2 separate regions of the Homo sapiens genome follow, and region 2 is linked to region 1. The links come from fine-mapping of genetic effects on gene expression. A gene starts in region 1. The other region holds a variant in brackets. All regions are shown on one strand. Distances are between the middles of the regions.

Region 1 (16,468 bases):
GGAATGTTTCTTGGGCATGTTTCAGACTGGAGTTCCACAACTCAGACTTTTCTTGCCAAATGAAATTTCAGCTACACTTAAGGCAAGTTAATGAAAATCTGGCAGAAAGCTGGGGGTGGGGGAGTGGGTGGGTACGGGGGTGGGAAGTCTTGGGGAAGGAAGACCCATCTGACAGACTCAATTCTGTCACCACTTAATCACTTCCAGTAGCAACTGAACTTTCCATGCAAATCCACCCAAGCTCCCAGCCTTCTGAATTTCCAGGCCCCAGGGGAAGGTCTTCAGATTGCTCAGACTAGTTTGTTCCCTCTTTAAAGAAAAATCCTTACTTTCTGGAAGGACTTGGTACACGTGGCCGCTACAGGAAATGTATCCTGATGGATAAGGCAGGCAGAAGGAATCAAGGAACTGAATTCAAGGAAGTTGCTGATGTGATATATTATTTCCCCCTCATATCACTTCCCCTTTCTCTAGGCACTCTTAGTCCTACCTGTCCCCACACAATCTGTAACTTCTTGGAGGAAATCAAAGTGCATTAAAGAAGACTCTCCGTCTGCTGGCCTGTTTACTTTGAGATCTTTTGCTCTTGTTTGCTTAGGAATTTGAAGATTTTCTACAGATTAGAATGTTTCCCTTCTAAAATTTTCCTTTAGGGAACTCCAGGCTCCAGTCACCCAACCAACAGGCAGGACAGAAAGATAATAAATTTAAAACAAAAAGAAAAGAAAAGCAGGGAGGGCTGGGTGTGGTGGGTCACACCTGTAATCCCAGGACTGTGGGAGGCCAAGGCAGGTGGATCACTTGAGGTCAGGAGTTCGAGACCAGCCTGGCCAACACGGCGAAACCCCATCTCCACTAAAAATATAAAAATTAGCCGGGTGTAGTGGTGTGCACCTGTAGTCCCAGCTACTCGGGAGGCTGAGGCAGGAGAATTGCTTGAACCCAGGAGGCGGAGGTTACAGTGAGCCGAGATCATGCCACTGCACTCCAGCCTGGGCAAGAGAGTGAGACCCTATCACACACACACAAAAAAAAGGTGGGGGGGGGGATGAGAAATGGGGAGAAGAGCTAGAGAGTAAGGAACCGGGGCAGCCTTCAGTGCTTAACTGGGCCCAGCTACCTCGAGATTTATGCAGATGACAGAACCTTTTCCAAGGTTTAGGACCTAGAAAGAAGAAAAGCTGAAGCCTAGAAAGGTGGGAGACTGGGCCCAAGTGGGTGAGAAGGGGCCCACCCTTGCTTGACCATGGAGGGTGACGCCCCTATGCAAGAGCTGGGCTCTAAGGAGGCTGGGGATGAGGGGGTGGCGCACAGCTTTGTCCTGTTTCTACAACCTAGCACAGAACTAGAGACAGCGTATGGGTGAATTGGCACAAATTTAACCCCTTTACAGAGGGAAGAAGAGTCACATTTGACTGAGTAGAAAGTACTAAGGGCATCGTTCCAAAATTGGGGAGCCAAGTTTCCAACCTTTGTTCTTTTGAGAATGAGGGTGGGGATATCACCCCACTCCCATCTTACCTCTCCCACTTAGCTGAGAGCTGAACCTAACTGACCTAATTCCTGTGGTAGGTCATTTAACACCTGTGTTGAGGTGCTTGGGGATGGACAAGGAATTTCAGGGAAGAACCCGGGCACTTTGACAGAGAATAAGACTGGTAGAGGGACCGCCAGTGCTGGGTTCCGGATGGACTAAGGCTACAGAAATGGAGCAGAGCTGGGCGCGGTGACTCACGCCTGAAATTCCAGCACTTTGGGAGGCTGAGGTGGGCAGATCACCTGAGGTCAGGAGTTCAAGACCAGCCTGGGCAACATGGTGAAACCCTGTCTCTACTAAAAATATAAAAATTAGCCAGGCGTGGTGGCAGGCACCTGTAATCCCAGCTACTCGGGAGGCTGAGGCACAGAGAATCGCTAGAACCCGGGAGGTGGAGGTTGCAGTGAGCTGAGATCATGCCACTGTACTCCAGCCTGGGCGACAGAGCAAGACTCCATCTCAAAAAAAAAAAAAAAAAAAAAAAAAGAAAGAGAAAGAATTGGGGCAGAATTGGCTTTAACCAGTCTGTAGTAACACTCCTTATATGTGGAAGACCACTAAATACTGGCTCCTTTTTGGTCCAAGGTGACCATATTCTTTTGACTTTGACATCGTTTGTGGATCAGGAAAGGGATAATGTAATAATTTTTTCTTAGGTATAAGTCAAAGACATGAATTGCATTTATACACTACTCTGCATTTTCTAGAATGCAATAACTTTACTTTTTCCTCAGAAATGTTTTGGCTGGGTGTGGTGGCTCAGACCTGTAATCCCAGTGCTTTGGGAGGCCATAGTGGGTGGATCTCTTGAGCCCAGGAGTTCCAGACCAGCCTGGGCAACATAGAGAAACCCTGTCTCTACAAATAAAATTAGTCAGGCATGGTGGTGCATGCTTGTAGTCCCAGCTACTCAGGAGGCTGAGTTGGGAGGATCGCTTGAGCCCAGGAGTTTGGGGCTGCAGTGAGCTGTGATTGCACAATTGCACCCCAGCCTGGGCAACAGAGTGAGACCCTATCCCCCAAAAATTTAATAAAAATGTTTACAGAGTACAAATGCAGATTTTTTATATTGTATAGCGGTAAAGTCTGGGCTTTCAGTATACCCATCTTTATTCTTCTCTCTACCTAGGCAAGAGAGCCATTTTAGGGATGAAAACCTCAAGATAGAGCATCTAAGCCAAGTTTCACATTACTGGTTTCTTGTGACATTTGCTCCTGTAGAATCGTCCAGTACAATCAGTAGACTGAACTGATAAGACCCTTCAAGCCTTTATTACTTTTCTACTACAGCCAATAACACATAGATTTAAGAGATGGAATGCTCTTAAAAGATGTTTACCCCAAAACGAGCACGTATGAAATATGTTAACCACCTATTTCTCCTGCAAGGTGACCCTAGACAGGACATTCTCTCTGGACTTGTTTCTCCTGGTATGACATAAAGAACGTTGCGTAACAGCTTGTTTTTCTTTAGCACTACGTGCCTGCCGCTCTGCTATGCATTTTACGTGGATTGTCTTATGTAATTTTCACAACAGCCCAGCTAATAAATGAGAAAACTGAGGCTCAGAGGTGAGCATCTGCTAACAAATGTCAGTGCAGTCCCATTTCTGAGCCTATGTCCTTAGGAACTTCCTGTATTAGTGAGATCTTTCCCAGCTCTATATGAATTCAGCATATTCTTCTTGGCCAAAATAATTTCCTCAACTGGCAATTAGGGTCCAGGAAGTTTAAATCAACGGGATGACAGAATGACAACGGAGAGGTCTCCAACCACAGGCCAAACAGCATGCTTCCACCCCAAGCCTGAGATTGGTAATTTCCTATAACCTTGCAACAGCCTCCCTCCCACACACTGGGCCCAGGGTGCCTGCAAAGCTTTGCTGGAGGCTGGGTGTCAGGTGTGAGAAGCTGCTGGGAGTTACCTCCTCCCTCACACTGCTCCACCTCCACCTCTGCCGGAGGATGGAACTTCAGAACCGGAGGCCCACGGCAGCCTGAAGAAAATGATCAGGATAACTCATTTGTAAAAATCTGTTTAATAAATATACATCATAAAAGTACCAAAATAATTACCAACAATACATTATGTACACCATTTACAGGAGGGTAACACAAACCTTGACAGGTAGTAACTTTTCACCCCACATCACTGAACGCTTAACACTCCTGGCTGTTACATGTCACAGGATACCACTGGGGTCAGTCACTCGAAGCACAATAAATATAAAATGTGGTCCTTCCATGAAATTTTTGATAACCTTCTCCAAAAACCCCACAAAGGTGAGGTTTAAAAGAAGTTTTCTCAGAATTTCAATGATCTTTCTCGTCCCCTACAAAAAGTTCACAAAAGCAACAAAATGAGGGCTGATCCTACCACAATAAGACGTTTTGGGCCAGGCAGTGTGCAGTGTGGATATAAGTACACCCTTTAAATTTTTTCTTCTTTTTTCTTTTTTTAGAAAAATAAAACTTTTTTTTTGTACAAATATACAAGTCCATGTTCTTTCAGCCCCTTTGCGCTCATAACGTCAGACGCTGGCCTCCAAACACACAGTCATCATAGGGCAGCTGAAAACAAGGGGAAAAAAGACACGTTAAGCTTCCGGAGCGGAGCTCTGCCAAGCTACCGGGATGGGGAGGCCACTACTGGAAATAACTCTTGGACTCCATTCTCCATAGCCCAAATATAATGAACTTTACAGGCTGAGAGAGTTTGCCTTTAATGCTTCTCTTTAAAAAAAGAGGGGGGGCAGGTACATTCTTGGGATACTGGTTATGCACAGAAATTTGAGAGACTCATTATGTAGATACCCCTCTGATAAGGAGCAGCTCTAGGGGCCTGGGAGGGTGAAGGGAATGGCACCTCATTAGTTAGAGCGCCGAAGGAGTTCACAGACTCACCTCGTCCTCTGTGAACTCCGTGAACTCTGACTCTGTGTCATAGCTCTCCTCATCCTCACTCTCTGGCAGCATCTGAAGGTTTTCTAGTGTCAGCTGGCCCAGCTGCTGCTGTATCCGGGTGCTTGGGCGGCCCCAGGTGAGCTGGTAGGGAGAATAGCCCTGGTAGGTAACTCTGTTGACATCAGCCCCACACTTCAACAGGAGTGACACCAGGTCAGGATTTTGCAGGTCCACTGCGAGGTGAAGGGCAGTCCGGCCATTACAGGGCTCCTGAAACCAAAAGGAATTTGAGATGCTTATGGCTGCATTTGGAATTTCTGCTCACAACATAAGCACGAGGAGCCTGACTCAGTGCGTCGGGGGCAGGAAGCACCAACCTGAGCATTGACATCAGCACCCAAGGACACCAAAAGCTCCACGATGCCCAGGTAGCCATGGATAGAGGCTAAGTGTAGACACGTGTGGCCTGGAAGAACAAAAGGAAAAAAGTATAACCACCTGTTTCAACCCTCACTCCTTTCACCTATTCTTTTATGGAACAAGTAGTCTTATCTTCTGAATTTTAAGAACCCACAGTCTGGGTTCTGAAAGAACTTTATAAAGGCATCCAATAGGCACTTTGCACACATATTTTCTCAACCTTCCAAATGTTAGGAGTTTAAGCTCTTGCCTGGACTCCTTAAGTTGGCCCACCTGCCCCTTCTCCACGTCACCTGCCCTCCGAGGGGGTGGGGCAGGGCAGGGAGGCAGACATACCATTGTAGTTGGTAGCCTTCAGGATGGAGTGGAGGTGCGGGGTGGTGCAGGACTGAGTCAGGACTCCCACGCTGGCCAGGCAGCCCTGCTCACAGGCAAGGTGTAGGGGGGTATTTCCTCGAAAGTCTCGGAGCTCAGGATCACAGCCAGCTCCCAGAAGTGCCTCAGCAATTTCTGGCTGGTTGGTGATCACAGCCAAGTGGAGTGGAGTCTACGAATGCAAGAGAGACCAGAGAAAGTAAGCCATGGACCAAACCCACACCCCGAGTTCCCCTCAACCCGTGTCTCCTGGTTGGGTGCTGCTCCTCCTAGACAGGGGGGTGGGGAGGGCTGGCAAATAGCAGAGGCTCCAGGTGGGTCATAAAGACCTCACCAAATCAGTGGAATTTCCTTCACTCTCTAGGATGTGGGCTGATGTGAAGTAAAAGGTGAGGGTAAATAGTGCTCAGTGGCCCTGAATTCAGAAAGGATCTGGGGTGACTCTGCTACATCAGCTACGTCCCAGGGTCAGAGAGAACCCGGGCCAGGCAAGCGGCGCACCTGCTGCAGGTTGTTCTGGAAGTTGAGGAAGGCCAGGTCTCCCTTCACCTGGCGGATCACTTCCATGGTCAGTGCCTTTTCTTCATGGATGATGGCCAAGTGCAGGAACCTGTGGGGAAGAGAGGGAAAAACCCCAGGGGTGGTGAGTGCACCGCGTGGGGCCCAGGGAGGCGCGGGCTGCGGGGGATTGCGCAAGGCCGGGGTTTCTGGAGGCCGAGGCCGCGGTGTTTTCCGCGAGGTTATTATGAGCTGAGTGTTCCTGGCAGGCGCCCAGGGACTTTCCGCCCCCCTCCCCCCGCGGCCCCGGCGGGCGCCGGCCAGACCGCCCCGCCCTCCCGCCAGCTCGGAACGCCCTGTACTTCCCCTCCCGGCTGCTCGGCGCCCGCCAGCGGCCAGAAACTCCCGCCCCGCCTTATGCAACCGGGGACTTCGCGTCCCCGCTGCCGCCCCGCCCCCGGCCTAGAGGACGGGTCTGGGGGGAGGGGGCGTGTGGCGACGCTGCCATCCACCAGGGCCCAGCCGCCGCCCCTCCGAGTTGGGCCGGTGCCCCGCGCGGCCCTGCAGCCCTGCAGCGTTCGGGGCGGTGCAGGAGCCCCGGGGTGCCGCGGCGCCCGCCCGGCTGCATCGCTGGTCCCCCGGCTCGGGCTCCAGGCCCGGCGCCTCCCACCCCCAGGCCGCGCGCGTCCCGCCCTCCCGACGACCCCCAGCCCCGGGCCTCCGCCACTTACGAGTCCCCGTCCTCGGTGAGCTGCTGCTTCCAGGGCTCCGAGCCGCGCGGCACCTCCTGCGGCTCGAGGCGGATCTCCTGCAGCTCCTTGACCATCTGCTCGTACTCCTCGTCTTTCATGGAGTCCAGGCCGCTGTCGTGGCGGTCGTCCAGTAGCCGCTCCTTCTTCAGCCCGTCGCGGGGGCCCTCCATGGCCCACTCCTGGGGGCGCTCGGCCGCCTGGAACATGGCGCGGACGAGCTGCGGGCGCTGCTGCGGGTGCGCTGGGCCGCGGGCTGCGCGCTGCTTCCTCGCTGGGGCGCTGGCGGGCGGGACGGCGGCACGGACTGCTGTGGGCTCTGCAGCGCCGCCGCGGCGCCCTATAAACGCTGGCTGGGGATTTCTCTGGGGCGGGGTCAGGCTCGGGGAATTTCCAAGCCAGTCAGACCAGAAAAAGAGAACTGGCTTCGTCCTCTGCTAGGGGGAAAAAGAAGCCTAAACCCTGAGCTGGGGTTCATCGGAGAAACTCCCTGCGATGAGCCACTAGGGTCACGGACAGGGAACTTTTTGATGAGCGCCGAGTGGCTGGAAAGTCCTTCCGACCAGGCCCCCTCCCCCCGGTACTTCCCTGCAGCCTGCACCCTGTAATCCTGTCCCTCTGCAAGTGAGCCTTCTTTCCCTGGGGTTTCCCACGATCGATTTGAATTGGGGTCGTCGGCTGCTGAGATCCCAAGGACGCCGACCTGATGGGCGGTCCCTCTTTGGGGTTTGCCAACCTGCCGGTCCTTTCCGTTTTTTGATCTTTTGAAAACGCAAGAGTGGAAATGATGGCTGGGCGTAGGGATTTGCTTTCCCCAGACTTCTAAGGGGAAGGACGCACTGTGGTTAGGGGGCTGCAGGCCGCGCCGGTGTTTCTGCCTATACCAGGCTCTTTGCAGCAAAGGAACTTTTAGCTTCGCCCCCACCCCCCCACGCACCCCCGCCAGGTAGAAGTTGTGAAAGCTTTGGAGGAGTGAAAAGCCTAAATCCTTGGAGAACTCTCAAATCACTTCCTAGGGATGAACAGCCCTGTTGACTGGGGGAGGGGCAAACGCTCCCTGTATGGGGAAACTGCTGAATAGGACCATGATTTTTTTTGTTTCCCAAGTAAAGCAAGGTGTTAATGTTTGTAGTGGTGGTTGTGGATACCTTGCAATAGCAGAGTAGCTATTGTGTTCATAAGTAGCTATTCGTTTATGCTATCTGACCTACATTGTGCTCCCGCAGAAAAAGGATCGTGAGCCTACTTCTGGGCACCCAAATTCGAGGAGAACTTAGAGAAGGAGGCTGAAGAATGAGTTTAGTTAGTGCCTTAACCGCGATTGGACCTTAAGGACCACTAAGAAAGTAGTTGCCAGGCATCCTGCGGGAGGCTCAAGGTAGTCCCATCCTGCCCGCCCCTCCTTGCTCTCTTGTCCTGGGGGACAGTAGCAGTTGGACCCATTCACGCCACCTGGGTAGAAAGGGGTTTCGGCTCACTATGCTCTGGTTTCACCTGCAGAAATATAATTTATGCTCTCCACTCCACCTCCACCTCCAAGCCTGCAAGCCATGGACTGAATTCATCTACTTGGTAGAATTGGTACAGGCAAAATAAAGCAAACTTCGGTCAGAGCTCTTCAGAATTAGTCCCAGGAGGCCTCTGTAGTTCTGCAGAGATTTCTGGTGATTATTGCAATCATCTTTACCTTGACTGGCCTTGTACTAACCAATCCTTCCCCTCTCTTCGTATCTCCACCCCTCCCCTAATATTAGAATGAAAGAAATCTGACTCGATAGAGAGAGACCAAGTATGAAGGGAAAAAAATTAAAATCAGATAGACCCTCCAGGGTAATAATGATCACATGTTACAATGAAAACTTCCCAGGGATAGACACCATTGTCTCTGCAGGTTTATGATATGCAAATCTACAATGATTGAGGCAAGGTGAAACAGTGACTGCAATGGGACATCTCAATTCCAGGTTCTATCTTTACTTGACTGCACATTAGTTGGAGAGGTCAGTTAACTTTTTTGTGGTATACTTAACTTTTATAATAAGATTAGATTGAATGTTACTTAAGGTCTTTTCTAGCTTAAAAGTCATATTGCTTGTCTACAAATGCATGCCTAACTCTCCTTTGTAAGGGTGACCATGGCTCTTGGAAATGTCAGGGTATAAATTTTTGAAAGAATTCCAGCGCCTTATGTACCACATTGTTCTCAGAACTAATCTTGTAAGATAGATATTGTTCCTACTTCCCTAAAAAGAAACTGAAATGCATAGAAATTTACCCAGGAACCCCTTGGCAGTATATTAATCATTTGGCCAAAGCAGTCTTAGTATTAACACTTTTGAAAACACGCTGTGAAAATCAGACTGACTACACTATAATTTGGAATGTACTCAAAAGTATTTTCTACTCCAACTGTTAGGGAAAATAAAGGGTGGGTGTCCCCTGACCCCCATCTGGGGATAGTCACTTCTTTTAAACAAGTACAGAAACATCAAACTCTAAATGTCCCAATTATAGAGGATACATCAGAAGAAGATATTTGGCTTCAGGTATAAAAATGGTTATAAAAAATAAAAATATCTGAGGAATAAGGTTTTTTTGCACCACCTTCTATGGTTTTATATTTCTGGTAGCCTTCAGGATCTTGGTGTTTATTCCTGATTGTTTTGTGTGACACCTAGTGGTAAGAGTAAGGCACAGGCGTTCCTTGATTTGTCATAGTGCCTTTTGCAAAAATTGGGAGGTGCTGAGCCTTGATGACTTGTCCCTACAGTGGAGATTTCCAAGGAGGTACCTATTGTTTTCCTGCGACTCTGGGAAACAGTTTTGAATAATGTGATCCAACAGGTTTTCTCCCCATCATCTATAGCGCTATATGGTTTAAGTCAACAAACATTACAACGTGGGTGAAAAAGAATATACACTTGGAAATTAGAACCATGAGCAGACTGGGCAGAAGACAACAAGAGGGTCTGGTTTTGATTTAGAAAGACCTTTATGGGCCAGGAGTTGTGGCTCACTGCTGTAATTTCAGCACTTTGGGTTGCTGAGGCAGGAGGATTGCTTGCCACCCAGGAGTTGGAGACCAGCCTGGGCAACAAGGCTAAACTCTTGTCTCTACAAAAAATATAATTAGCAGAGTGTGGTGGCAGGTGCCTGTAGTCCCAGCTACTCCAGAGGCAGAAGTGGGAGAATTGCTTGAGCCTGGGAGGTGGAGTTTGTAGTGAGCCATGATGGCACAACTGCACTCCAGCTTGAGCAACAGACTGAGACCCTGTCTCAAAAAGAAAAAAAAGAAAAAGAAAGACCTTTATGGACCCTTCAGCACTCAGATTTTTCTCCTCCTCATTGTCAAACATTCTAGCTAACATAACCGTTAAAAAAAATGTTAAAACTGTAGGCTGTGCGCAGTGGCTCACGCCTATAATCTCAGCACTTTGGGAGGCTGAGGCAGGTGGATCATGAGGTCAGGAGTTCGAGACCAGCCTGGCCAACATGATGAAACCCCGTCTCTACTAAAGATACAAAAAATTAGTCGGGTGTGGTGGTGCAGATGCTGCTTAGGAGGCTGAGGCAGGAGAATCACTTGAACCGAGGAGGCAGAGGTTGCAGTGAGCCGAGATCGCGCCATTGCACGCCAGCCTGGGCAACAGGGTGAGACTCTGTCTCAAAAAACAAAACAAAACAAAACAAAATACTTTAGATAACTGATTTTTAATGTTATTTGGCCTTTTTAATGCATAAGGCAAAATAATAAGTTACACCTCAAAGCTGCTTTGTATTTTGGCCCAGGACGCAGCCGTAGGAAATGACAGGACGGCCAGTGATGCTCCAGGAGCACCCCCATGGGAAAAGGAGCATCGCCAGGGCCTGGTTTGGCTGCAGGCACTTCAGGCACTCCTCCTGCATGGAACAAGCACAGTATGGACAAAACCTATTGCCTGAAGTGCCATGGAGAGAGTCTACAAGTTCAGCCAGGTGGTCCAAAATCCTCAGGGCAGGGTGGCCTGTGTCAACTGGCCTGGCCAATTAAAACTAAATTGTTTTGGCTACAGCAAATTCAACTCTGGAATCAGGCTACCTATTGCTCAGTGCAGCTAGGCTGGAAGAAAGACGAGCCATGACAGAGTTCCTGAAGAGCAAGGCAGGTGCACTCCCAACTGGCAGCCCCACTGTGAAATTCTAAATATTCTGCTTTCAGTCTCAGGTTGTCTTCTTTCTTGCTATCGTGGTAGCAACTGTCTGCATCCTCTTCAGAACAGGGAGCCCCCAAGCTATGGATCTTTTCCCATAGAAAAACAAGGCTGGGGGCGGTGGCTCCGACCTATAATCCCAGCACTTTGGGAGGCTGAGGCGAGCTGATCACCTGAGGTCAGGAGTTCAAGACCAGCCCGGCCAACATGGTGAAACCCCATCTCTACTCAAAATACAAAAATTAGCCAGGCGTGATGGCACATGCCTGTAATCCCAGCTACTCGGGAGGCTGAGGCAGGAGAATCACTTGACCCTGGGAGGTGAAGGTTGCAGTGAGCTGAGATCGTGCCATTGCACTCCTGCCTGGGCAGCAGAGAGAGACTCTGTCTCAATTAAAAAAAAAAAAAAGGAAAAACAGCTGTCAGAACCTTCATTTGTAGTGAAGTGAAAATAAGACCGTCAAATCCTTAATGTGTTTCCTTTGCTACAAATTCTGCAATTTAATGGAGATCAAAGCTTTAAAGGATCTCAAACTCAAAATACTTACGCATAGGGAGCAGGCAGATTTCACAGATGAGTGAAACAGACCATTTGAGTCTGAAAGGAGTGGGATCTCCAACAGCTTAGGTCAGGGTGTGTACTTCCCTCATACTTAGCTCAGACAACTTTTGGCATGTAGCACCTTCAGTTCAGTAGTGACCTTCTATTGTTAAAGAAATAAAAAAAATTGGCCCAGCTCCGTGGCTCATGCCTGCAATCCCAACACTTTGAGAGGGTGAGGCAGGAGGATCACTTGCGTTTAGGAGTTTGAGACCAGCCTGGGCAACATAGTGAGACCCCATCGCTATAAAAATAAAAATAAAAAAATTAACCAGGTGTGGTGGCATACACCTGTAGTCGCACCTACTTGGGAGACTGAGGTGGGAGGATTGCTCGAACCTGGGACGTTGAGGCTACAGTGGGCCATGACTGTGTCACTGAGCTCCAGCCTCAGCAAAAGAGTGAGACCTTGCCTCAAACAAACATAAAAACATTATGAAAACTAAACACAATGCATTTCTGCATCTATTGGCTAAACAGAGCCTATAAGCTCTGAGTTTACAACCTCTTTTTCAGCCAAGGTATGATGTTTTAATTGTGCTTTGCAAGAGGCACAACCTTCTGCTCTTGGCATCATGGGTTCTCTGCTCCTGTGTAACAGGAGACTGGGACAGTGTGTCCATCCATGATGCGCAGGGCTGCTCCTGCCAGGCAGGGTTAGGATTAGGGGCTCTAACCTCTGAAAAGTGAATTTTTCCTCCCTCAAACCAAGTATTTATTTGTTTTGTTTGTTTGTTTTTGAGACAAACCAAGAGTTTTGCTCTTGTTGCCCAGGCTGGAGTGCAATGATGTGATCTTGGCTCACTGCAACCTCTGCCTCCCGGGTTCAAGTGATTCTCCTGCCTCAGCCTCCTGAGTAGCTGGGATTGCAGGCACCCGCCACCATGCCCGGCTCATTTTTTGTATTTTGGGTAGAGACAGGGTTTCACTATGTTGGCTAGGCTGGTCTCAAACTCCTGACCTCAGGTGATCTACCCGCCTTGGCCTCCCAAAGTGCTGGGATTACAGGTGTGAGCAACCATGCCCGGCCTGTTTGTGTTTTTGAGACAAGGTCTTGCTGTGTCACCTAGGCTGGAGTGCTGTGGCATGATCACAGCTCGCTGTAGCCTTAATCTCTTGGGCTCAAGCAATTCTCCCACCTCAGTCTCCCATGCAGTGGGACCACAGGCACATGCCACTGTGCCTGGCTAATTTTTTTTGAGACGGAATTTCATTCTTGTCACCCAGGCTGGAGTGCAATGGTGCAATCTTGGCTCACTGCAACCTCTGCCTACCAGGTTCAGACGATTCTCCTGCCTCAGCCCCCTAAGTAGCAGGGATTACAGGAGCCTGCCACCATGCCCAGCTAATTTTTTGTATTTTTAGTAGAGACAGGGTTTCACTGTGTTGACCAGGCTGGTCTCGAACTGTTTACCTCAAGTGATCTGCCTGCCTCGGCCTCCCAAAGTGCTGGGATTACAGGCATGAGCCACCACACCCGGCTGTGCCTGGCTAATTTTTTAATTTTTTGTAGAGATGGGTCTCCCTGTGTTGCCCAGGCTGGTTTTGAGCTCCTGGGTCCGAGCGATCCGCCCATCTTCACTTTCAAAAGTGCTGGGATTACAGGTGTGAGCCACTGCACCCTGCCCCAAAGCAATTTTTAAATGCTACAGTGTAAAATAAGCATAATAAGTCCAACAAAGTTCTGATTTTTCTCACAATGACTACTTACGTTGTTTTAAGCAATCAGATGACTTCACTAAACATCTCCTGAGGTGTGCCTGCTCTGCTGGTGCCCTAACTGCATGCCCATCTGGCTCTTGGGTAACCTGCTGCGAGGGAAGGAGGAGGCCTGCACGTGTCACCCGTGGCCAAAATTACTGGCTCTCCCTTTTCGTGGCTTGTTGGCAGTAACCAAGTAATATTTATAGGTGTGTAGCATTGTTCATGGTCTGTTGTGTTCAGGGAGAAGTTGTTGGATCAGGAAGGTGGTAAAGGCTTAAGGCAGTTTCCCCTGCATGCCGCTGTATTTGCTATTTTGTCTTGGGTGTAAATTCATTCTGAGTTTAGTCAGGGTATGAGGATACTTAGCACTAGGGAACTTCCACACAAGAGCCTGGTACTTGGCAGGGGATGAGACATAAATGATATGAGGCCCTTGTTCTTTGGCACTGAAATTAGGTGAGGAGCTCATGATCCTTCTCAGAGGGGGCCTAAGCTGTATCCACCAACGGAAACCACATGGAGAGGTAGATCCTTTCCCCCCTACGGTCTAAGGTCTTGGGAATCATTTAGGAAAAAGGAAAACAGAATCAGAGCTGCTAAGAGATAGATTCATATTACAGAGTAAGGATTTAGGAAGCTTGTTCCTGAGCCCTTTCTTGTAAGTGCTAAAATAATGCCTTTCTCAGACTTCCTTTTAGAGCCTCTATTATCTGGAGTAAAACACCGGAGTGCTTGGATGAGTATTAGAAATTGAGATTTGTCTCTGAGGCTATTAGTGGGGAACGGTACCACAAAAATATAGTTTCTGAAAGTTTTTCTTAGGTTGATTTTTTTTTTTTTTTTTTTTTGAGACAGGATCTCACCCTGTCACCCACGATGGCGTGCAGTAGCACGATTATTGCTCACTGAAGTCTTGACCTTCTGGGCCCAAGCAATCTTCCTGCCTTAGCCTCCCATGCAGCTGGGATTACAGACATGTGCTACCACACCTGGCTAATTTTTGTATTTTTAGTAGACATGGGGTTTCGCCATGTTCCTGGCCTCCAACTCCTGATCTCAGGTGATCCACCTGCCTCAGCTTCCCAAAGTGCTGGGATTATAGGCGTAAGCCACCACACCTAGCCTGGCCAGGTTTGTTTGTTTATTTATTTATTTATTTTGACACAGAGTCTCGCTCTGCTCCCCAGGCTAGAGTGCAGTGGTGTGATCTTGGCTCACTGCAACCTCCGCTTCCTGGGTTCCAGTGATTCTCATGTCTCAGCCTCCCTAGTAACTGGGACTACAGGCGCCTATCACCACGTCTAGCTTATTTTTGTATTATTTGTAGAGATGGGGGGTTTTGCCATGTTGGTCTTGAACTCCTGACCTCAAGTGATCCATCCACCTTGGCCTCCCAAAATCTGGGATTACAGGCGTGAGCCACCGTGCTCAGCCTATTTTTTTCTTTTCTTTTCTTTTTTTTTTTTTTTTTTTTTTTTTTTTTGAGATGTTGTCTCACTCTGTTGCCAAGCTGGAGTGCAGTGGCGTGATCTCGGCTCACTGCCATCTCCGCCTCCCAGGTTCAAGTGGCTCTCCTACTTCAGCCTCCTGAGTAGCTGGGATTACAGGCACGCACCATCATTCCCGGCTAATTTTTGTATTTTTAGTAGGGACAAGGTTTCACAAGGTTGGCCAGGATGGTCTCGATCTCCTGACTTCGTGATCTGCCTGCCTCAGCCTCTCAGAGTGTTGGGATTACAGGTGTGAGCCACGGTTGCTCGGCCTATTTTTAACCACTGAAAGCAAATGAGAAACAGAGTGAGAAGGATCACAAATAGAAGCCATGAGCAGAAAAAAAGGGAGAAATTGGCCTGGAACATTTTTTCTTTGTTACCAGGTGTCAGCTGTCAGAGTCCAGTCCCATGACTGTGACACAATCCATTTGGATAAGCCACTTAGCTTGGCTTAGGAATATTCATCATTTCTTATATCCCAGGGCTGTTCATAGGCTAACGTGTAGTGATTATTTGGCCAAAAACACTGATATTTTCAGAAAGTGAAGCAGATTAATGCATCACCAAATCTTTAAATGCTAATATTTGAAAATTGGGCCAGTTTGGAGGAGTGTGAGAAAAGAGGGAATGGGGTGCCCCTGTACTCATTGATTGAAACTCAAGAAGCTAGGTGGAAATGGGTGAGGTTGACAGCACAGGTATGGGTTTTGCTAGAAATCTAAATGAACATCATGAATAGAGAGTAGGGAAGCACACAGATAACCCAGTCTCGATGTTGGCTCTTCCGCCTTTAGGGATCAGGTTCATCTCCAGGTTGCCAGGGCATCAGGAAAGCACCTCGCTGGATTTCAGGGCAGGAGGAGGGGAGTCACAGGGTAAAGGGAAGAGGCTACACACAGAGCAGGAGCAGGGGCTATGGGAGTTAGGGAGGGAGCCGAGGGGGAATTTTCCCTTCACAAATGGCAGGGCAGAACACCAACATGAGGAACACAGTATATGCATGGTGCTGTCTGCAGTGACATCTTCTGGCCATTTGTGGAAGAAGTTTTCTCTGAGGCATCACCGATTCTTGAGAAGAGGAATTTAGGAATGTTGAGTTGAGGAGGTACACCGAGACTGGATATGAAGTTGTGATTGTGGTACATCACTTAACACAGTCCCAAAGGAAAGACCCCCACTTTATCTGTGAGTGTTAGTTTTCCTTCAGTGCCTGTTGCCAGTCAGCTCAGTGCATCCTGCTATTGACACGATACCCGGACCATCCTCTTCCTTCCATCTTCACTGTCCCCACGGTAGTGCGGGCTGAGTTGTACCATGGTAGCTTCTTGGTACTTTTTGTTATTGTTGTTGTTTTGAGATGGAGTCTTGCTCTGTTGCCCAGGCTGGAGTGCAATGGTGTGATCTCGGCTCACTGCAACCTCTGCCTCCCAGGTTCAAGTGATTCTCCTGCCTCAGCCTCACCAGTAGCTGGGATTACAGGCACCTGCCACCACACTCAGCTAATTTTTGTATTTTTAGTAGAGACGCAGTTTCACCATGTTGGCCAGACTGGTCTCGAACTCCTGAACTCAGGCAACCCACCCTCCTTGGCCTCCCAAAGTGCTGGGATTACAGGCGCAAGCCTGGCAAAAATGAATTATTTTTAAAGTTGAAACAGAATACCTTCCTGTGATTAAAAAAAACCAAGCAGTCTAAAAATATTACAATTATACAATTAAATCTCTCTTTTGTTTCTTTTTCTTTTTTTTTTTTTTTTTGACTTGTTGCCCAGGCTGGAGTGCAATGGCGCGATCTCGGCTCACTGCAACCTCCGCCTCCTGGGTTCAAGCAATTCTCCTGCTTCAGCCTCCCAAGTAGCTGGGATTACAGGCATGTGCCACCACGCCTGGCTAATTTTTGTATTTTTAGTAGAGACGGGGTTTTACCATGTTGGTCAGCCTGGTCTCAAGCTCCTGACCTCAGGTGATCCACTCACCTCGGCCTCCCAAAGTGCTGGA
Region 2 (16,468 bases), 220 kb before region 1:
CTCATTGTGGTTTTGATTTGCATTTCTCTGATGGCCAGTGATGATGAGCATTTTTTCATGTGTCTGTTGGCTGAATAAATGTCTTCTTTTGAGAAGTGTCTGTTCATGTCCTTTGCCCACTTTTTGATGGGGTTGTTTTTTTTCTTGTAAATTTGTTAGAGTTCTTTGTAGATTCTGGATATTAGCCCTTTGTCAGATGAGTAGATAGCAAAAATTTTCTCCCATTCTGTAGGTTGCCTGTTCACTCTGATGGTAGGTTCTTTTGCTGTGCAGAAGCTCTTGAGTTTAATTAGATCCCATTTGTCAATTTTGGCTTTTGTTGCCATTGCTTTTAGTGTTTTAGACATGAAGTCCTTGCCCATGCCTATGTCCTGAATGGTATTGCCTAGGTTTTCTTCTAGAGTTTTTATGGTTTTAGGTCTAACATTTAAGTCTTTAATCCAACTTGAATTAATTTTTGTATAAGGTGTAAGGAAGGGATCCAGTTTCAGCTTTCTACATATGGCTAGCCAGTTTTCCCAGCACCATTTATTAAATAGGGAATCCTTTCCCCATTGCTTGTTTTTGTCAGGTTTGTCAAAGATCAGATAGTTGTAGATAAGCGGCATTATTTCTGAGGGCTCTGTTCTGTTCCATTGGTCTATATCTCTGTTTTGGTACCAGTACCATGCTGTTTTGGTTACTATAACCTTGTAGTATAGTTTGCAGTCATGTAGCTTGATGCCTCCAGCTTTGTTCTTTTGGCTTAGGATTGTCTTGGCAATGCAGGCTCTTTTTTGGTTCCATATGAACTTTAAAGTAGTTTTTTCCAATTCTGTGAAGAAAGTCATTGGTAGCTTGATGGGGATGGCATTGAATCTATAAATTACCTTGGGCAGTATGGCCATTTTCACAATACTGATTCTTCCTATCCATGAGCATGGAATGTTCTTCCATTTGTTTGTGTCCTTTTTTATTTCGTTGAGCAGTGGTTTGTAGTTCTCCTGGAAGAGGTCCTTCACATCCCTTGTAAGTTGGATTCCTAGGTATTTTATTCTCTTAGTAGCAATTTTGAATGGGAGTTCACTCATGATTTGGCTCTCTGTTTGTCTGTTATTGGTGTGTAAGAATGCTTGTGATTTTTGTACATTGATTTTGTATCCTGAGACTTTGCTGAAGCTGCTTATCAGCTTAAGGAGATTTTGGGCTGAGACAATGGGGTTTTCTAAATATACGATCATGTCATCTGCAAACAGGGACAATTTGACTTCTTCTTTTCCTAATTGAATACCCTTTATTTCTTTCTCCTGCCTGATTGTCCTGGCCAGAACTTCCAACACTATGTTGAATAGAAGTGGTGAGAGAGGGCATCCCTGTCTTGTGCCGGTTTTCAAAGGGAATGCTTCCAGTTTTTGCCCATTCAGTATGACATTGGCTGTGGGTTTGTCATAAATAGCTCTTATTATTTTGAGATACGTCCCATCAATACCTAATTTATTGAGAGTTTTTAGCGTGAAGGGCTGTTGAATTTTGTCAAAGGCCTTTTCTGCATCTATTGAGATAATAGTGTGGTTTTTGTCTTTGGTTCTGTTTATATGCTGGATTACATTTATTGATTTGCGTATGTTGAACCAGCCTTGCATCCCAGGGATGAAGCCCACTTGATCGTGGTGGATAAGCTTTTTGATGTGCTGCTGGATTCAGTTTGCCAGTATTTTATTGAGGATTTTTCCATCGATGTTCATCTGGGATATTGGTCTAAAATTTCTCTTTTTTTGTTGTGTCTCTGCCAGACTTTGGTATCAGGATGATGTTGGCCTCATAAAATGAGTTAGGGAGGATTCCCTCTTTTTCTATTGATTGGAATAGTTTCAGAAGGAATGGTACCAGCTCCTCCTTGTACCTCTGGTAGAATTTGGCTGTGAATCCGTCTGGTCCTGGACTTTTTTTGGTTTGTAGGCTATTAATTATTGCCTCAATTTCAGATCCTGTTATTGGTCTATTCAGAGATTCAACTTCTTCCTGGTTTAGTCTTGGGAGGGTGTATGTGTCCAGGAATTTATCCATTTCTTCTAGATTTTCTAGTTTATTTGCGTAGAGGTGTTTATAGTATTCTCTGATGGTAGTTTGTATTTCTGTGGGATCGGTGGTGATATCCCCTTTATCATTTTTTATTGTGTCTATTTGAGTCTTCTCTCTTTTCTTCTTTATTAGTCTTTCTAGCAGTCTATCAATTTTGTTGATCTTTTCAAAAAACCAGCTCCTAGATTCATTGATTTTTTTGAAGGGTTTTTTGTGTCTCTGTCTCTTTCAGTTCTGCTCTGATCTTAGTTATTTCTTGCCTTCTGCTAGCTTTTGAATGTGTTTGCTCTTGCTTCTCTAGTTCTTTTAATTGTGATGTTAGGGTGTCGATTTTAGATCTTTCCTGCTTTCTCTTGTGGGCATTTAGTGCTATAAATTTCCCTCCACACACTGCTTTAAATGTGTCCCAGAGATTCTGGTATGTTTTGTCTTTGTTCTCATTGGTTTCAAAGAACATCTTTATTTCTGCCTTCATTTCATTATGTACCCAGTATTCATTCAGGAGCAGGTTGTTCAATTTCCATGTAGTTGAGCGGTTGAGTGAGTTTCTTAATCCTGAGTTCTAGTTTGATTGCACTGTGGTCTGAGAGACAGTTTGTTATAATTTCTGTTCTTTTACATTTGCTGAGGAGTGCTTTACTTCCAACTATGTGGTCAATTTTGGAATAAATGCGATGTGGTGCTGAGAAGAATGTAAATTCTGTTGATTTGGGGTGGAGAGTTCTGTAGATGTCTATTAGGTCCGCTTGATGCCGAGCTGAGTTCAATTCCTGGATATCCTTGTTAACTTCTGTCTCGTTGATCTGTGTAATGTTGACAGTGGAGTGTTAAAGTCTCCCATTATTATTGTGTGGGTGTCTAAGTCTCTTTGTAAGTCTCTGAGGACTTGCTTTATGAATCTGGGTGCTCCTGTATTGGGTGCATATATATTTAGGATAGTTAGCTCTTCTTGTTGAATTGATCCCTTTACCATTATGTAATGGCCTTCTTTGTCTCTTTTGATCTTTGTTGGTTTAATGTCTGTTTTATCAGAGACTAGGATTGCAACCTCTGCCTTTTTTTGTTTTCCATTTGCTTGGTAGATCTTCCTCCATCCTTTTATTTTGAGCCTATGTGTGTCTCTGCATGTGAGATGGGTCTCCTGAATACAGCAACACTGATGGATCTTGACTCTTTATCCAGTTTGCCAGACTGTGTCTTTTAATTGGAGCATTTAGCCCATTTACATTTAAGGTTAATATTATGTGTGAATTTGATCATGTCATTGTGATGTTAGCTGGTTATTTTGCTCATTAGTTGATGCAGTTTCTTCCTAGCATCGATGGTCTTTACGTTTTGGCATGTTTTTGCAGTGGCTGGTACCGGTTGTATCTTTCCACGTTTAGTGCTTCCTTCAGAAGCTCTTTTAGGTCAGGCCTGGTGGTGACAAAATCTCTCAGGATTTGCTTGTCTGTAAAGCATTTTATTTCTCCTCCACTTATGAAGCTTAGTTTGGCTGGATAGGAAATTCTGGGTTGAGAATTCTTTTCTTTAAGAATGTTGAATATTGGCCCCCACTCTCTTCTGGCTTGTAGAGTTTCTGCCTAGAGATCCGCTGTTAGTCTGATGGGCTTCCCTTTCTGGGGAACCTGACCTTTCTCTCTAGCTGCCCTTAACATTTTTTCCTTCATTTCAACTTTAGTGAATCTGACAATTATGTATCTTGGAGTTGCTCTTCTTGAGGAGTATCTTTGTGGCATTCTCTGTATTTCCTGAATTTGAATGGTGGCCTGCCTGCTAGGTTGGGGAAGTTCTCCTGGATAATATCCTGCAGTGTTTTCCAACTTGGTTCCATTCTCCCTGTCACTTTCAGGTACACCAATCAGACATAGATTTGGTCTTTTCATATAGTCCCATATTTCTTGGAGGCTTTGTTCATTTCTTTTTCCTCTTTTTTCTCTAAACTTCTCATCTTGCTTCATTTCATTCATTTCATCTTCCATCACTGATACCCTTTCTTCCAGTTGATCGAGTCGGTTACTGAAGCTTGTGCATTCGTCACGTAGTTCTCGTGCCATGGTTGTCAGCTCCATCAGGTCATTTAAGGACTTCTCTACACTGGTTATTCTAGTTAGCCATTCATCTAATCTTTTTTAAAGGTTTTTAGCTTCTTTGCAATGGGTTCGAACTTCCTTCTTCAGCTTAGAGAAGTTTGATCGTCTGAAGCCTTCTTCTCTCAACTCATCAAAGTCATCGCAAAGCTTTGTTCTGTTGCTGGCGAGGAGCTGCGTTCCTTTGGAGGGGGAGAGGTGCTCTGATTTTTAGAATTTTCAGCTTCTCTGCTCTGTTTTTTCCCCATCTTTATGGTTTTATCTACCTTTGGTCTTTGATGATGTTGACAGACAGATGGGGTTTTGGTGTGGAAGTCCTTTCTGTTTGTTAATTTTCCTTCTGACAGTCAGGACCCTCAGCTGCAGGTCTGCTGGAGTTTGCTGGAGGTCCACTCCAGACCCTGTTTGCCTGGGTATCAGCAGCGGAGGCTGCAGAACAGCGAATATTGCTGAACAGCAAATATTGCTGCCTGATCGTTCCTCTAGAAGCTTCGTCTCAGGGGTACCCGGCCGTGTGAGGTGTCAGTCTGCCCCTACTTGGGCTACTCGGGGGTCAGGGACCCACTTGAGGAGGCAGTCTGTCCATTCTCAGATCTCAAACTCCGTGCTGGGAGAACCACTGCTCTCTTCAAAGCTCAGTTGAAAGTGCAGAAATCACCCATCTTCCGCATCGCTCACGCTGGGAGCCGTGGACTGGAGCTGTTCCTATTCGGCCATCTTGGAACCGCCAGTTCATTCTTATCATAACTATCATGTGGGTTAATTTAGAAGTCTAGATAGGCCAGCTGCAGATCAAATGAAATTACATATGAAAGTGCTTTGTGCAGTATAAAGCACTATGAGATTATAGAGTGTATTGGATAATTGTATGCAGTTGCATCCATTAGACTGGCTTTTTCAGATTTCATTTGTAGAGTATCTGTGTGTGTGTGTGTGTGTGTGTGTATTTTTAAGGGATGAATATTTTGAATTATCAAAACAATAATAAAGGTCACTGCAGTGTGTTTATAATAAAGTCCTTACTGAGTTCTTATTAATGTTTTGTCTGACATTTCTTTATTAGGAACTTAAGAGATTTGAGAACTTCATAAAATCTCGTCCTCCTTTTGATGTTGTCATTGATGGTCTCAATGTTGCCAAAATGTTTCCTAAAGTTCGTGAATCTCAACTTGTAAGTATAAGTTTTACTTTGTTATTCCACATCTCTAGAAATATTTATTATACCCATTTATGACCTTCTTGGGGCTCTTAGCTCCTCAGTTTTTCTTCCTCTAAAACTAAGGTCTTCAGGGTGCCACAGTGACCAACTGCATGCTCCCCTAAGATTTACTATTTTCATCACTAATAAGTCGCTCTTCAAGGCTGGGAGAAAACAATTAAAAGTGAGGAATTAAAAGAAAGATTGCAATACAGGGCCAGATTTTCCCGTTTCGTGTAACCTTTAGCTAACCTTCTCCTGGGTCTCTGCTTTCTCTTTGGGGTCGCTCTGTCATTTCCCTTTGGGTCATATCCTTATATTTGAAAATTATCAATATACAATATCAAGAGATATTAATCACTCATTACTCACATTTGTTTTTTCCAAACATAGTATGTTCATAAATTAACCTAAGCAGTTTTTTTTTCTATATGGTAGCCATTTGTTAATTTATAAATGCCCTACTAGTTTCTAATAAGACTATCATTTTTCATAGCTGCAATTAACAGTTACTTTAATCTCTATTTTGTAGATTAAAAAATTGAGGCTAATTTTGTATAGTAAATCTATAGAAAACAGTCATAACATCAAAATTAGATTGTAGAGAGCTCCTGGGTTTCAGACTTGTGGCTCTTATCATTGGCAATCTATAGCCATTCATCTGTAATTAAACTATTTCTTAAAAATTGCTGCCGCTGGCTGGGCACAGTGGCTCATGCCTGTAATCCCCAGCACTTTGGGAGGCCAAGGTGGGTGGATCATCAGAGGTCAGGTGTTCAAGAGCAGCCTGGCTAACATGGTGAAACCCTGTCTCTACTAAAAATACAAAAATTAGTTGGGCATGGTGGCATGTACCTGTAATCCCAGCTACTCGGGAGGCTGAGGCAGGAGAATTGCTTGAACCTGGGAGGCGGAGGTTGCAGTGAGCCGAGGTCGTGCCATTGCACTCCAGCCTGGGCAACAAGAGCAAAACTGTCTCAAAAAAAAAAAAAAAAAAGTAATGATAAAAAGAGTAGTAAAATACATATATATTATTTTTATATTTGAAATTGAAGCATATGTAAAGTTGAGGAACCCTAATGGGAAGAATAGAAAAATTTGCTAGACAGTAAAAAACAAAACAAAACTGAACTAAAAAATATAAACACTGTTGAAAGACAACAAACTGCAAAATGTAGGCCAGGCATGGTGGGTCACACCTGTAATCCCAGCACTTTGGGAGGCTGAGGCGGGCAGATTGCCTGAGGTCAGGAGTTCGAGACCAGCCTGGCTAACATGGTGAAACCCCATCTCTACTAAAAATACAAAAAAATTAGCCGGGCATGATGGCGCACACCTGTAGTCCCAGCTACTTGGGAGGCTGAGGCAGGAGAATCACTTGAACCCGGAAGGCGGTGGTTTTAGTGAGCTGAGATCATGTCACTGCACTCCAGCCTCGGCAACAAAACAAGACTACATCTCAAAAAATAAAAAGTAAATAAAATGTTTACAATATGTGACAAAGAGCAAATTTCCTCACTGTATCAGGACTCATAAGCCTATAAGAAAAAGATGAACCGACTGGGCACGGTGGCTCACGCCTGTAATCCCAGCACTTTGGGAGGCCAAGGCGGGTGGATCACCTGAGGTCAGGAGTTGAAGACCAGCCTGGCCAACATGGTGAAACCCCATCTCTACTAAAAATGCAAAAATTAGCCGGGTGTGGTGGCAGGTGCCTGTAATCCCAGCTAGTTGGGAGGCTGAGTCAAGAGAATTGCTTGAACCCGGGAGGTGGAGGTTGCAGTGAGCTGAGATCTTGCCATTGCACTCCAGCCTGGGCGACAGAGTGAGACTCCTCGAAAACAAAAAAGAAAAAGATGACCCATGCAGTGGAATAGTGGTTTAATTTTACTTATATTTATAGATACACAGATTAAAATATTTATCTTCCAGATTGGTAAATCTTTAAAAGTTGGTAATATTCAGTGTTTAGAATAGTTTGAAGAGGTAGGAAGGATGATATCAGTGCGATATTTTTGGTGGATGATTTGTCTGTAACTTTCATTATCTAAAATACTGAAATTCTGCTTTTAGGAACTGACATAGTAACACTAGTACATAAAGAAATGTATTCAAATGTGTTCATTATTGCATTATTGGTGAGCAGAAAAATCTAAACAACCTAAATATCTATCAATCTTAAGCCCGATACATATTTAAATATTAATTTTTGTGAATAAGGTAAACCAATATGTGCTGCTGTGGAACAGTTGTCAGAATATAAGTGTAAGAAGCAAAATGAAAAACAACATGCTTAGAATTGCTCTATTTATATTAAAAACAAAGCAAAAAATTATCCATGTATAGATAAATGTTTGTTAGATAAGTTTGTGTGTGTATGCCCAAAAAATTTCTAGAAGTTTAACACATACATACATACACACACACACACACACGCACACACACACAATTTAACAGTGTAGTTACCTTTGGGAATTGGGGATAGAATACTGTATAAGAGAATTGAGAGGACTTCTGGTTTTTGTTCACGTTTTTTGAATTTTCTTTTACCATGAGTATATATTACTTAAAAATTTTAAAAATATCAGGAAAGGAAAAAAGTTAAAAAGCATTCTTGATAAATATTTTAAAATAATTTTGTAATACTCTGTGTCTTGTGGATGTACAATAATTTTTAAATCATTTACCTGTTGTTAGACAAATGAGGCTTTCCATTTTTCACTATAATAAGTAATACTTGGAAGACAGCCTCTGTGCATGTTTCATAGGATGTCTTTGGAATAGATTTTGAGAAACTGGACTCTTTAGTCAAAGGGTATATATATTTTTAAAGATCTCACTATATATTGCCAAATTGCTTTCCAAAATGATTGTAGTAATTTATACTACCACCAAAAGTGTATAATGGTGCCTAAATATAACACATTTCTTTAAGGTTACTTATTACATGATTGTTTCAGCCACTCACCTATGCCATGAGTCCGCTAAGTGAAAAGGGCTGGATGGTTTCTTCCCCATTTTTTAGGTCAAACAGATTTTTTTAAATTGTGGGACAAACTTTAATGAAATAGTTCCAGAAAGGGAATATTCTTCACTGTCTTTTCTGTCTTCCTTATCTTTCTCTTAATACAATTACCTATAAGTGTACATAAAGGAAAAATTAGGAATTCGAAGTTCTATAAGTTTTAAGTTTTTTCCATCTTTGAAGAGATTTCCAGACTTTTTGTCTGTGGAGTGATGTACATATTATTTATGCTCTTCCTATAAACTCTCTGCATTATACATTACACATTTTTCTCGGTCCTTTTACATTAATGGTTGATTATATATCTAGTATTCTCTGTAAGTTCATTAATGAGAAGATAACTTTTTTACATTCATTGTTTATGGAATAGCACCATTATCACATATCTTGATCTCAGAGCCTATAGCTTAAGGGTGATAGAGATTAAGGAACTAAAAAAAGAAAGTTCTAGTTGTAAATGTATTTTATTTTCTCAATTTTCAAATGAATCTTTTTTATATTTTAACTTTTCTGAAGTCTATGTTATAATTCATGTCAGTAGAAACTTGCCAGCCACCATGTAGAGATTTATTGGTGACTGTCATTGCCTGGGTGTGTACAGAATTAGCTATACATTGCCACCTCAGTTGAATTAGTTATATTCGTAGCTCCACACACTGTTACACTGTTTAATTTTAACCTAAATCTTTTTTAAAAAACTTTTATTTTAAGCTTGGGGGTACATGGGAAGGTTTGTTACATACATAAACATTTGTCAAGGGGGTTTGTTATACATATTATTTCATCACCCAGGTATTAAGCCCAGTACTCAATAGTTAATCTTTTCTGCTCCTCTGCCTTCTCCCACACTCCCCGCTCAAGTAGACCCCAGTGTCTGTTGTTTCTTTATTTGTGTTCATAAGCTTTTATAATTTAGTTCCCACTTATAAGTGAGAACATGTAGTATTTGGATGTCTGTTTCTGCATTAGTTTGCTAACGATAATAGCCTCCATCTCCATCCATGTTCCTACAAAAGACATGATCTCATTCTTTTTTTGGCTGCATAGTACTCCATGTTGTATATGTGCCACATTTTCTTTATCCAATCTGTCATTGATGGGCATTTAGGTTGATTCCATGTCTTTGCTATTGTTAATAGTACTGCAGTGAACATTCATTTGCATGTGTTTTTATGGTAGAATGATTTCTACTCATCTGGGTATATGCTCAGTAATGGGATTGCTGGGTTGAATGGTAGTTCTGCTTTTAGCACTTTGAGAAATTGCCATACTGCTTTCCACAATGGTTAAACTCATTTACACTCCCACCAACAGTGTATAAGTGTTCCCTTTTCTCTGCAACCTCACCAGCATGTATTATTTTTTGACTTTTCCATAATAGCCATTCTGACTGGTGTGAAATGGTATCTCACTGTGGTTTTGATTTGCATT[T/G]CTCTAATGATCAGTGATATTGAGCTTTTTTTCATATGCTTGTTGGCCACATGTTTGTCTTCTTTTGTGAAGTTTTTGTTCATGTCCTTTGCCCACTTTTTAATGGGATTGTTTTTCTCTTGTAAATTTGTAGTTTTAACCTAAATCTTAACTTTAAATATTTGCCAAAGGTTTCCTGACAATGTAATAAAAGACAGTGGAAGTTGCTTTTCTAAGACTAAGGTACAGAATTTTAAAGCAAGAAGAGGTTGTTATGACTGATTTTTGCATTTTGAAAAGTTGCCACTGAGCCTGCAAACTTCCACCTGCCAATACCTTCCCATAGACATTCAAGCAAAGTTGACTAACTTCCAGAATGGCATAATTCAAAGAAAGAAAAAGCAATAATCAGATGTGAAATACAGGTAAACTCCAGTATTTTTCAACCTTAGTGTCATGCTGTTGGTCCTAAAAGTGTTATAAAAGTGAAGATGAATAGCACAGGCTCTAAGGAGAGTGGTGTGTAATATGTCACCATGAGGATGTACAGAACTGTTATGGCCAAAAGTGATTTAGAACAGAACAGCCTTCAATTCAGATATGAAAGTGTATACTTACATGTTAATTGTGATTCCAAAACAAGATTATGGTATGAACTATATGGATTAATGTACAATTTTGTTGGTTACTGAAATAGTATACTTTTTTGTTTGTTTTTTTGCTTAAAAGTTATTTATTCCTAAACCAGTGTTTCATCTTACAGTTTCTGGAATGTTAATAATGAGGAAGTATGATTACAAGATGTGCTAAGTGGAACTGGGGACTATAAAGTCCCTGGGCTCAAGACACCCCCCAACCTCAGCCTTCTGAGTAGCTGGGACTACATACACATGCCACCAAGTCCAGCTAATTTTTTTTTTTTTTTTTTGTGGAGACGGGGTTTTGTCATGTTGCCCGGGCTGGTCTTGAACTCCTGGGCTTAAGTTGCCTGCTGTGGCCTCCCAAAGTGTTGGGATTACAGGTATAAACCACCATGCCGCCTAGATTTTGCTTTTGGCACAATTGGAGACTTGGCCAAGTCATGTCTCAATTCTTTAATGGTTGTATTTTTTTTTCTTTTTTATTGAGAAATATAATATTTATATAACATAATATTCACCCTTTTAAAGTGCACAATTCAGTGGTTTTTACTGTATTCACAAAGTTTTGCAATCATCACCACTATCCTATTCCAGGACATTTTCATTTTTCTTGAAGAAGCCTCATACCCATTAGCACTAACTCCCAGTTTCTTCCTCCCATTGGTCCCTGGCAACCACTAGTCTTCATTCTGTCTTTTCCTTTTTTCTTTCATTTTCTTTTTTTTTTTCTTTTGAGACAGGTACTTGTGTTGCCCAAGCTGGAGGGTAAGGGTGCAGTCATATCTCACTGCAGGCTTGACCTCCTGGGCTCAAGTGGTCCTCTGCCTCAGCCTTCCAAGTAGCTAGAACTGCAGGCACACACCACCAGGCCCAGCTAATTTTATTATTATTATTATTATTTTTCATAGAAACAGGGTCTCACTGTGTTGCTCAGGCTGGTCTTGAACTCCTGGCCTCAGGCAGTCCTCCCAAAGTGCTGGGATTACAGGACTGAGCCACCATGTCTGGCCTTCTTTCTATCTTTATGAATTTACCTATTCCAGACATTTCATATTTTCACTTAGCATAGTGTTTCAAAGTTCATCCATTTTGTAGCAGGAATCAGTATTTCATTCCCTTTTATTGCCAAATCGTGTTCCATTGTATGGATATGCCACATTTTATTTATTTGTTCTGTAGTTGATGGACCTTTGGGTTGTTACCACTTCTTGGCTATTATGAGTAATGCTACTATGAACATTTAGGCACAAGTTTTTGTGTGGACATATGTTTTCATTTCTTTTGGCTATATACCTAGGAGTAGAATTGGTGGGTCATATGATAACTCTGTGTTTAATCTTTTGAACTTCCCAACTGTTTTCCAAAGCATCTGCACCATTTTGCATTCTCATCAGCTGTGTATAAAGGTTCCAATGTCTCCACATCCTCACGAACACTTGTTATTTGTCTTTTTGATTATAGTCATCCTAGCAGGTGTGAAGTGGTATCTTTTTTTGTTTGTTTTGGTCATGTAAGAAATGCAGGACCTGGTATATTGTAGTTTCTTTGTTTTTTTTTTTTTTTTAGATGGAGTCTCACTGTCACCGAAGCTGGAGTGCAGTGGCATGATCTCAGCTCACTGCAACCTCTGCCTCCTGGGTTAAGCAATTCTCGTGGCTCAGACTCCTGAGTAGCTGGGACTGCAGGTGTGCACCACCATGCCTGGCTAATTTTTTTTTTTCGTATTTTTAGTAGAGACGGGTTTTCGCCATGTTGGCCAGGTTGGTCTCAAAGTCCTGACCTCAGGTGATCTGCCTGCCTTGGCCTTCCAAAGTGCTGGGATTACAGGCGTGAGCCACCGCACCTGGCCCAGTATCTTGTAGTTTTGATTTGCATTTGTTAATGATGCATGATGTTGAATATCCTTTAATATATTTAATGGCCATTTGTATATCTTCTTTGAAGAAATGTATATTTATTTTCTTTTCTTTTTTTTTTTATTTTTTGAGACAGAGTCTCGCTTTGTCGCCCAGGCTGGAGTGGTGCAGTGGTGCGATCTCGGTTCACTACAACCTCCACCTCCTGGGTGCAAGCGATTTTCCTGCCTCAGCCTCCTGAGTAGCTGGGATTACAGGCACGGCCACCACACCTGGCTAATTTTTGTGTTTTTATTAGAGACAGGGTTTCACCATGTTGTTCAGGCTGGTCTTGAACACCTGACCTCAGCCTCCCAAAGTGTGGGGCTTATGGGCATGAGCTACCGTGCCTGGCCAGAAATGTCTATTTCTTTGCCCATTTTTAATTGTTTTTTATTATTATTGTTGAGTTGTAATTTTTTTTTTTTTTTTTGAGACAGAGTCTCGCTCTGTTGCCCAGGCTGGAGTGCAGTGGCATGATCTCGGCTCACTACAACCTCCACCTCCCGGGTTCAAGCGATTCTCCTGCCTTAGCCTCCTGAGTAGCTGGGATTATGGGCGTGCACCACTATGGCTGGCTCTTTTTTGTATTTTTGGTAGAGATGGGGTTTCACCATGTTGGTCAGGCTGGTCTCGAACTCCTGACCTCGTGATCTGCCCGCCTCGGCCTCCCAAAGTGCTGGGATTACAGGTGTGAGCCATCACACCCAGCTAAGTTATAATTTTTAACTATATACCAAATACTAGATCTTTATCAGATATATAATCTCTAAGTATTTTCTCCCAGGCTTTGGATTCTCTTTTCGGTGTTTTGATGATATCCTTTGAGGCATGGAAGTTTTAGTTTTGATGAAGTCCAATTTATTTTTTCTTTTGTTGCCTGTGCTTTTGGTGTCTAATCTAAGAAATCATTGCCTAAGAGCCGGGCGCCGTGGCTCACGCCTGTAATCCCAGAACTTTGGGATGCCAAGACAGGCAGATCACGAGGTCAAGAGATCAAGACCATCCTGGCCAACATGGTGAAACTCTGTCTCTATTAAAAATACAAAAATTAGCTGGGTGTGGTGGTGGGTGCCTGTAGTACCAGCTACTCGGGAGGCGGAGGTTGCAGTAAGCTGAGATCGTACCACTGCACTCCAGCCTGGCGACAGAGCAAGACTCTGTCTAAAAAAAAAAAAAAAAAAAAAAAGTATTGCCTAATCCAAGGTCATGAAGATTAATGCCTATGTTTCTTCTAAGAGTTTTATAGTTTTAGTTCTTGCAGTTACAGAGTTTGCATTGTTAGGGAAATAGTTCAATCTTGAGTACCTGATAAACCAACATAATTTAGAATATAGTGAGATTAAAGGGGACTAACCTTCACCCTATTTATTTGTTTAACCTGTAAATCTAGGCAGACTAAGTCTTACTACTTTTCTTGTAGATGTTTTTCAACTGTAAATTGTATTTTGCTTAAAGTATTTTTGTTGTTGTTGTTTTTAGAGATGGGGCCTTGCCATGTTGTCCAGGCTAGTCTCAAACCCCTGGGCTCAAGTGATCCGCCTGCTTCAGCCTCCCAAAGTGTTGGGATTATGGGTGTGAGCCATGGTGCCCAGCCTGCATAAAGTAATATATTTCCCTGGTTTCAATTTTTCAGAAAAAGAAAAATTCTGAGCTTTTTTTTTTTTTTTTTAAAGAAGAGGGAAGGATTCTGAGTGACTAGCAGATTGATTATATAGCCTGCCTTTTAAGAAGAACAGTTACAGAAACTTGGCAGGGAATTATTAGGTTGATTCAATTACTGTTTCTTGAGCACCCATTCCAAGCCAGATACTGTTTTAAGCTGTGAGGATATGACCATAGATCAATAACAGGAATGCTAGCCACAAGGTTAGGCTAATGATTGTGTTATCTAAACAAGAAATGCATATTGTGTATTCTGTTGTCTATTAACAATGATTCTTGTGTTCGTGCATGACTCTTTTCATTAAAGATTTACTTGAATTGTCAGAATAGAAAATAGTATTTACCCAAAATACATGAGATAAAATTTTTTTAAAAAATAAGCATAGCAGGCTGGGCATAGTGTCTCATGCCTGTAATTCCAGCACTTTGGGAGGCTGTGGCGGGTGGATCAAGAGGTGAGAAGTTCAAGACCAGCCTGGCCAAGATGCTGAAACCCTGTCTCTACTAAAAATACAAAAATTAGCTGGGTGTGGTGGCACTTTCCTGTAATCTCAGCTACTCGGGAGGCTGAGGCAGGAGAATCGCTTGAACCCGGCAGCAGAGGTTGCAATGAGCTGAGATTGCGCCACTGCACTCCAGCCTGGGTGACAGAGTGAGACTCCGTCTTAAAAAAAAAGGCTGGGCGCAGTATCTCATGCCTGTAATCCCAGCACTTTGGGAGGCCGAGGTGAGTGGATCATCTGAGTTCAGGAGTTCAAGACCAGCCTGGCCAACATGGCGAAACCCTGTCTCTATTAAAAATACAAAATTAGCCGGGCGTGGTGGTGCATGCCTGTAATCCCAGCTACTCGGGAGGCTGAGGCAGGAGAATCGCTTGAATCCAGGAGGCAGAGGTTGCAGTGAGTCGAGATCGAGCCATTGCACTCCAGCCTGGGCAACAAGAGTGAAACTCTGTCTCAAAAAGGAAAAAAAAAAAAGTATTGCAAAATGGTCTAGTAACATTTAAATCTCCAGAGTATGTTGTAATTTTGAAGAAACTATGACTAAATTTATTTTATTATTTTTATTTATTTTTATTTTTTTGAGATGGAGTCTTGCTCTGTCACCCAGGCTGGAGTGCAGTGGCATGATCTTGGCTCATTGCAACCTCCGCCTCCGGAGTTCAAGCAATTCTCCTGCCTCAGCCGCCTGAGTAGCGGGGATTACAGGCACGTGCCACCACGTCTGGCTAATTTATGTATTTTTAGTAGAGGCGGGGTTTCACCATGTTGGCCAGGATGGTCTCAATCTCCTGACCTCCTGATCCGACTACTTGGCCTCCCTAAGTGCTGGGATTACAGGCATGAGCCACCGCACCCGGCTGACTGTATTTAAAAGTATTAGTTATGGACCCTTACATACTACTTGAGTCAACTTTTATATAGCACTTGAACCAACATCTCTTCATCATAATCTGTTGCAAGATATTTTAGATTTTCTTGGATTGGATTTCTTTTTTCTTTTTTAATTTAATAAACTTAATTTTCCTAGAGCAGTTTTAGGTTCATGGATTTCTTTTTATGAACAACCATTTCCCAACATGTTATTTGGACTCTTACAAATACTTCTGAACAAAGCCAGGCATGGTAGCATGCACCTGTTATATGATTTGGCTATGTCTCCACCCAAATCTCATCTTGAATTGTAGCTCCCATAATTCCCACATGTTGTAGGAGGAACTTGGTGGGAGATAATTGAATCCTGGGGGCAGTTTCCCTCATACTGTTCTTGTGGTAGTGAAGAAGTCTTACAAGATCTGATGGTTTTATAAGAGGTTTCCCCTTTCACTTCTCTCATTCTCTCTTGCCCACCGCCATGTAAGACGTGCCTTTTACCTTCTGCCATGATTGTGAGGCCTCCCAAGCCACGTGGAACTGTGAGTCCATTAAACCTCTTTTTCATTATAAATTACCCAGTTTTGGGTATGTCTTTATCAGTAGCATGAAAACAGACTAATACAACCTGTAATCCCAGCACTTCAGGAGGCTGAGGCGGGAGAATCACTTGAGCCCAGGAGTACGAGACCAGCCTAGGCAACATAGCGAGACCCCATCTCTACAGAAGATCAAAAACATTAGCTGGATGTGATGGCATGCACCTGTGGTTCCAGCTTCTCAGAAGGCTGAGGCAGGAGGATTGCTTGAGCCCAGGAATTCGAGGCTGCAGTGAGGTGTGATCATGCCACTGCACTCCAGCCTGGACAACAGTCTCAAAAACCAAAACCAAAACCAAACCAAAACAAACAAACAAACAAAAAGAAACAAAAACTGGGGTGGGTAATTGGCACTACTATCCACCAAATTGCTCAAACCAAAAACCAAGGATTCCAGCCAGCCACAATTACTCTTTCTCACTACTCCTATATCCAGTAGACTGACAAGTTTTCTTGGTTTTAACCCCAGTAGACTGACAAGTTTTCTTGGTTTTAACCCCAGTAGACTGAC

The links. PIP is the estimated chance that this variant, and not a neighbour inherited with it, causes the effect.
Region 2: its variant is fine-mapped to the expression of NFKBIA in whole blood (TOPMed, PIP 0.97).

What each region holds. Positions count from the first base shown.
Region 1 is chr14:35,397,953-35,414,420 of GRCh38, forward strand. NFKBIA (NFKB inhibitor alpha) reads right to left here and starts at 6,797. Exons shown (of 6, transcript NM_020529.3): 1 at 6,466-6,797; 2 at 5,738-5,846; 3 at 5,198-5,408; 4 at 4,819-4,907; 5 at 4,442-4,711; 6 at 3,561-4,108. The coding sequence starts at 6,692. The coding sequence ends at 4,061. RefSeq lists enhancers at 4,165-5,038, 5,289-5,598, 5,629-5,678, 6,783-7,654, 6,859-7,258 and 1 more and silencers at 5,879-6,468, 6,619-6,788.
Region 2 is chr14:35,175,456-35,191,923 of GRCh38, forward strand. PRORP (protein only RNase P catalytic subunit) reads left to right here. Exons shown (of 8, transcript NM_014672.4): 5 at 5,215-5,322. It overlaps PRORP-PSMA6 (PRORP-PSMA6 readthrough), which reads left to right. Exons shown (of 15, transcript NR_182666.1): 5 at 5,215-5,322. Among named protein-coding and RNA genes, the nearest start is that of PRORP, 61 kb to the left of the region's middle. The variant T/G (reference allele first, on the strand shown) is at 9,806.